2 linked regions of the Homo sapiens genome follow. The protein of the gene in region 1 purifies or fractionates together with the protein of each later gene. This does not show direct contact. Each region holds a gene or a part of one and is shown on either strand. Other genes may lie near its edges.

Evidence for each region.
Region 2: the proteins of CFAP77 (region 1) and TUBA3C purify together in Homo sapiens (affinity purification with mass spectrometry, with the first as the bait; 3 studies listed by BioGRID). This does not show direct contact.

The regions. Positions count from the first base shown.
Region 1 is NC_000009.12:132,567,005-132,570,661, forward strand, and holds part of CFAP77 (cilia- and flagella-associated protein 77), read left to right. Parts: intron 1-3,657. UniProt on the Homo sapiens protein: Microtubule inner protein (MIP) part of the dynein-decorated doublet microtubules (DMTs) in cilia axoneme, which is required for motile cilia beating.
Region 2 is NC_000013.11:19,173,272-19,176,048, reverse strand, and holds the end of TUBA3C (tubulin alpha-3C chain), read left to right. Parts: intron 1-1,889; coding exon 1,890-2,186; 3' UTR 2,187-2,277; downstream 2,278-2,777. UniProt on the Homo sapiens protein: Tubulin is the major constituent of microtubules, a cylinder consisting of laterally associated linear protofilaments composed of alpha- and beta-tubulin heterodimers.

The DNA.
Region 1 (3,657 bases):
ACTGGGAGTCCTTCAGGGAACAGGCCACGAGCAGACCCTGCTTCATAGAGGAGGAGCCCTTCCTTGAGCTCCCTTCTGGGATGAATTCACTCCGTGAGATTCCAGTTGGAATGGGATGTCATCCACATCAGACACCACAGGTGACATGCGCTCTGCCTCTCCCAGTGTCGGCACACAGCAGGTGCCAAAATGTGTGTGGTTAGTCATTGGGAGGAGCCTCTTGTGCCCAAAACACCCCTTTAGAAAACCAAGGGGAATATGGAACTTGGAACTCTGAAGTGCAAGGGGTGTGTGCTTAGCAGCTGCTGGCACACAGTAGGTACTTAATAAATATTTTTTAGATGGATGGATGGATGAATGCTTCTGCTTCAGCGAAGTTTCTAAGTAAACGGCGACTGCGAAAAAGAAAATTTCTCACCATGGTTCTCCTTTTGTCCTTGTGTGGTTAGACTGAGCAGCTCCTTAGGGCTTCAATCCTCCAGCCACCTTCTTGGGGTATGGGATGAGTGGGTGCTGGTGAGCCTCCTGCCACCAGCAGGGCCAGCCACAGCCCCACCCACCATCGCTGCATGCTGATTTGCCCAGGGAATGGCTTGAGGGCTGTATTAGCTTCTAGAGGCTGCTATAACAAATTGTCACAAACCTTGGTGGCTTAAAACCATAGAAATGTTTGTTTTCACAGTTCTGGAGGCCAGACCAACAAAATCAAAGTGTCGTCAGGGCCACATTCCCTGGAAGGCTCTAGGGACAATCCTCCCTGCCTCCTCCAGCTCCTGTGGGCTCCCGATGCTCCTTGGTTGTGGCCACATCGCTCTCATCTCTGCCTCTGTCTTCACATGGCTGTCTCCTCTGTGTCTTCTGTTGCTACTAAAGATGCTTGTGATTGGATTTAGGGCCCATCTGAATAATCTAGGATGATTTCATCTCGAGATCTTTAATTATATCTGCAAAGACCCTGTTTCCAAATAAGGCCACATTCTCAAGTTCTGGGGGTTAGTACATGGACCTATCTTTCTGGGAGTCATGGTTCAGCTCACTACAAGGGCCGAGGAGGAAGGAATGGACAGGGCTGAGAGGTGGTCTGCAGAGCTATACTCCCCTATGAAGAGCCATGGGCACCCAGAGAAGCAGAGAGAAGCAAGGTGGCTGCCAGGGACTTGGAAATGGGAGCTGCTATTCAAGGGGTATAGTTTCATTTACGCAAAATGAATACTCTCTAGAGACCTGCTGTACAACGCTGTGCCTAGAGTTAATAATAGTGCATATACAGCTGGGCGCTGTGGCTAACGCCTGTAATCCCAACACTTTGGGAGGCCGAGGCGGGTGGATCACCTGAGGTCAAGAGTTCCAGACCAGCCTGGCCAACAAGGAGAAACCCCGTTTCTACTAAAAATACAAAAAATTAGCCAGGCATGGTGGCAGGCGCCTGTAATTCCAGCTACTCGGGAGGCTGAGGCAGGAGAATTGCTTGAACCCGGGAGGTGGAGGTTGCAGTGAGCCGAGATCACACCATTGCACTCCAGCCTGGGCAACAAGAGTGAAACTCCGCCTCAAAAAAAAAAAAAAAAAAAATAGTGCGTATACTATACTGTGCACTTGAAAATGCTGCTAAGAGATCAGATCTCATGTTAAGGGTTCCCACCAAAAAAATCTCCAATAAACAAAACAGCAAAAAACCAACTGGGCATGAGGAAGCTTTGGAATAGATTTTTTTTTGGAGACAGAGTCTCTGTCCCATAGTCTGGAGTGCAGTGGCATGACAATGGCTCATTGCAGCCTCAACCTCCCAGGCTCAATCAATCCTCCCATCTCAGCCTCCCAAGTAGCTGGGACTATAGGCATGTGCCACCATGCCTGGCTAATTTTTGTATTATTTGTAGAGACAGGGTTTCACCATGCTGCCTAGGCTGGTCTCTAACTCCTGGGCTCAAGCAATCCACCTACCTTGGCCTCCGAAAGTGCTTGGATTACAGGTGTGAGTCACCTTGTCTGGCCGTTGATGGCTATTTTTGATTGTAGTGATGGTTTCAGGGCTATTTGCATATGCCCAAACTCATCAAATTTTACACATTAAATACAGGTTTTGCAGGTTAGGTAGATCAATCATACCTCAACAAGGCTGTTACAAATATCTTTCAGAAAAGTAAAATTAATTTTGGGAGGCCAAGGGAGGAGGATCACTTGAGGCTAGGGGTTCCAGACCACCCTCAACATATTGAGACCCTCCCCCCATCTCTACAAAAAATTACAGAAATTAGCTGGGCATGGTGGCGCACAGCTGTAGTCCTAGCTACCTGGAGGCAAGGCAGGAGGATCCCTTGAGCCCGAGAGTTTGAGGCTGCAGTGAGCCATGGTTGTGCCACTGCACTCCAGCCTGGGTGACAGAGTGAGAACCTGATGGGGGCGGAGGGTGGTAGGGGGGAAAAGGAAAATTCTTATAGTGACATTGTAACAACATGGATAGTTGTTTTCACATACTAAACATTTTGCAAAGCTGAATATAAATAGTTATTATTACTATTTGAAAAATATGCCTGTGTTCTAAAAAACAAATGAAAAGACACCATTGGTGACTGGCCACCAGAGACAGCACAATTGCCAATCTGGATGCCACTGAAGGCCAGGGGTGCCTCAGGTCCAAGCCGGCTGGACACCAGGGTGGCTGCATGCCCCCGAGACCCCAAGGTCTGATGCACCTGTCTTCCTAAGTGTCTCTAGCTGCCCTTTTTTTTTTTTTTTTTTTTTTTTTGAGACGGAATCTCGCTCTGTTGTCCAGGCTGGAGTGCAGTGGCACAATCTCGGCTCACTGCAACCTCCGCCTCCTGGGTTCAGGCGATTCTCCTGCCTTAGCCCTCCCTGTAGCTGGGACTACAGGCACCCACCACCACACCCAGCTAATTTTTGTATTTTTAGTAGGGATGGGGTCTCGCCATGTTGGCCAGGCTGGTCTCAAACTCCTGACAAGTGATCCGCCCACCTTGGCCTCCCAAAGCACTGGGATTACAAGTGTGAGCCACTGCTCCCAGCCTCTAGCTGCCTTTTAGGAGCCATGGGCCTCAGGAAGATCGTGTCACAGTGTAAACATCAGGCCACCACTTGCCAGAAGGTCACAAAGGTGTCACTAGAAGCCCTTTGTCCACAGACTATTTTCCTCCTGCACACTGTGCAAGGCCTTCTCTCTTCTCAGTGTGTCTTGTGAGGCTACTTGGACATTTTTCCGAAACATTGAGATTGAGCTGAGGGCACAATCATGGTTTGATTGATGGAGATCAGTTGCACAGCAGACATGCAGCCCTGGGTCCAGGTGGGCACTGGGTAACTATGCTACGCGCTCTGACCTGAGGGGCTCAGTAGCTTTTGGGCTGGGCTCAGGCCTCTCCCTTGGTTGCAAGAGCCCCAATGCGATTCTGAGGCAAAACCAAAAAATCTGAAACCCGAGGCTGGGGCTGGGACTACGACTGGTGCTGCGGCTGGGCTGAGGCTGGACAGCTCTGAGAAATGCTGCCATGGAGGGTCCCTAGAGGGACTTGCAAAGGGCCCTGAAACCTCCTAAATCACCTGCACTGTTTTTTATGTAAGCACTTGTGGGCATTTTTTTTTCCCAGAGGAAAAGGGCCCATGGCTTTCCAAAGAGCATCCCCAAGGGGTCCACATCCG
Region 2 (2,777 bases), on another chromosome or scaffold:
AAAATTGGATGGGCATGGTGGCCCATGCCTATAATCCAGCACTTTGGGAGGCCAAGGCAGGCGGATCACCTGAGGTCAGGAGTTTGACACCAGCCTGGCCAACAGGGCAAAATCCCGTGTCTACTAAAAATACAAAAATTAGCCGGGTATGGTGGCGGGCACCTGTAATCCCAGCTACTGAGGAGGCTGAGGCAGGAGAATCACTGGGACCCAGGAGGTGGAGGTTGCAGTGAGAAGATATCACTCCACTGCACTCCAGCCTGGGTGACAGCACAAGACTCTGTCTCAAAAAAAGAAAAAAAGACAAGATCATACAAATTCTAGGCCTTACAGGTTACACGACCTCTGTCACACCTACCCCACTCTGCTGTCGGATAGCAAAATCAATCTGCAAATGAAGGGGTGTGGTGGCTGTGTTCAGACAAGATCTTACAAAATTAGGTGGCTAGTCCAGCAGCTGTGCTAACCCCTGAAGGAGAAGAAGAGACACCCACAGTAGGAAATCCCAGTCAGAACTGACTGCAGTGGTCTCCCCCAACAGAGACGGTGGGGGTCTGAGCCAGAGGCAGCAGGGAAAGCACAGCACAAGAACGCACAGGCCCAACAGAGAAATGCCACAAGATTTAGTAACCAACTATTGATAAAGCTGAAAGAGGACAGCAAGGTTTCTTTTGTGTCAGTGGAAGGTGGGGACAGATTTTGTGTCTGAGGCAAACCCAGGCCAAAATTACTAGGCTTCCCGGAAAAGAAATAAAGACGTTGCTGCTTTTTGTTTTGTTTTGTTTTGTTTTGTTTTTGAGACGGAGTCTTGCTGTGTCGCCCAGGCTGGAGTGCAGTGGCGTGATCTTGGCTCACTGCAAGCTCCGCCTCCTGGGTTCATGCCATTCTCCCGCCTCAGCCTCCCGAGTAGCTGGGACTACAGGCGCCCGCCACCACACCCGGCTAATTTTGTTTTTGTATTTTTAGTAGAGACCGGGTTTCACCATGTTAGCTAGGATGGTCTCGATCTCCTGACCTCGTGATCTGTCCACCTCGGCCTGCCAAAGTGCTGGGATTACAGGTGTGGGTCACCGTGCCCGGCCTTTTAATTTTTTTGAGACAGGGTCTTGCTCTGTCACCCAAGGAGTGGTAGGATCTCAGCTCATTGGAACCTCTGCCCTCCAGGCTCAAGCAATCCTCCCACCTCAGCCTCCTGAGTAGCTGGGACCACAGGTGCATGACACCATGCCCAGCTAATTTTTTTGTATTTTTGGTAGAGACAGGGTCTTGCCATACTGCCCAGGCTGGTCTCAAACTCAGTTCAAGAAATCCACCTTGGCCTCCCAAAGAGCTGGGATAATGGGTGTGAGCCACTGCACCTGTTGCTGTTTTCATCACAAACAACTCATTCTTTTTTTAAATCAAACCCTACATGAGACAGTGGAACGAATGATGTTGTGAAGCAGTTTATAGTAATGCCCAAGTTAAAATAAAATATATACACCACCTACAAGATTCCCCAAAATGCCCATAAAATTACTAAGTTCAACCTACCTTTTCCACATGAATTCTACCACCCAAGAAAGGGGCACAAAAATCCTTTAGAAAATACCTTATTCTTAAAAAAAAAAAAAAATGCTGGGCATGCTGCCTCATGACTGTAATCCTAGCACTTTGGGAGGCTGGGGTGGGTGGATCGATTGGGCCCAGGAGTTTGAGGCCAGCCTGGGCAACATATGTTGTCTGGAACTGTCACCCTGCCTGGCACAGAGAAGGGCTTAGTGACATTTGTGGGGTGAACTGAGAATTCTCCTGTTCACCTACAGGGTGTCTTCTTTTTGAGGAAAAGCAGCCACCATTTCCAGGTTTGATATAAGCTTCATGGACTGTTTCTTCCTCTTCTCCGGCAGGTGGGCATTAACTACCAGCCCCCCACGGTGGTCCCTGGGGGAGACCTGGCCAAGGTGCAGCGGGCTGTGTGCATGCTGAGCAACACCACGGCCATCGCGGAGGCCTGGGCTCGCCTGGACCATAAGTTCGATCTCATGTATGCCAAGCGGGCCTTTGTGCACTGGTACGTGGGAGAAGGCATGGAGGAGGGGGAGTTCTCTGAGGCCCGCGAGGACCTGGCAGCTCTGGAGAAGGATTATGAAGAGGTGGGCGTGGATTCCGTGGAAGCCGAGGCTGAAGAAGGTGAAGAATACTGAGGGGAGGGTGTGGTGGGTTCTCCACTCCACTGCCACCCCCAGCGTGGCTGCTTTCAAGTTCTTTGCAATTAAAGGTTCTGTATAAAACCAAGACCTCTGTGTATCGTACTGCCTAGCTTTGCCTGCAGGAGCAGGTGGGACCCCCAGAGCCTGCATGGACAGTGGTGGGGTGCCAGCCTGCCCTGCTAGCATGGAGTTGGGTGCAGCGGGATGGTACATACTTAAGGAGCTGCCACAGAAGTAACTTGACACGGAGAAATAGATTTCCTAAATTCTAGGAAAGCACAGTCAGGGTTTTCAACTGAATTTGCAACTTTGGGGGCTTTTCTATTGATGGGTGATGCGAGCTACAAAGAAGAGTCTAGACATGGAGTGTTTAAATCTGAGGTCTGTGGATGGGGCTTGTCCATGAAATCCCTAAAGCTGTGGGTCAAATGTGTAAGGTCAGGACATTTTAGAAGGGAAAGAGTGTTACTGTGTTCTGCACAGCATTCGTGACCCATAGAAGGTTACAACACACCCAGCCTTCCACAGTAACCTGGAAGACAGCATTTGCCCTCCGTGCACACACACGGCCACTCTGCCCCTCAG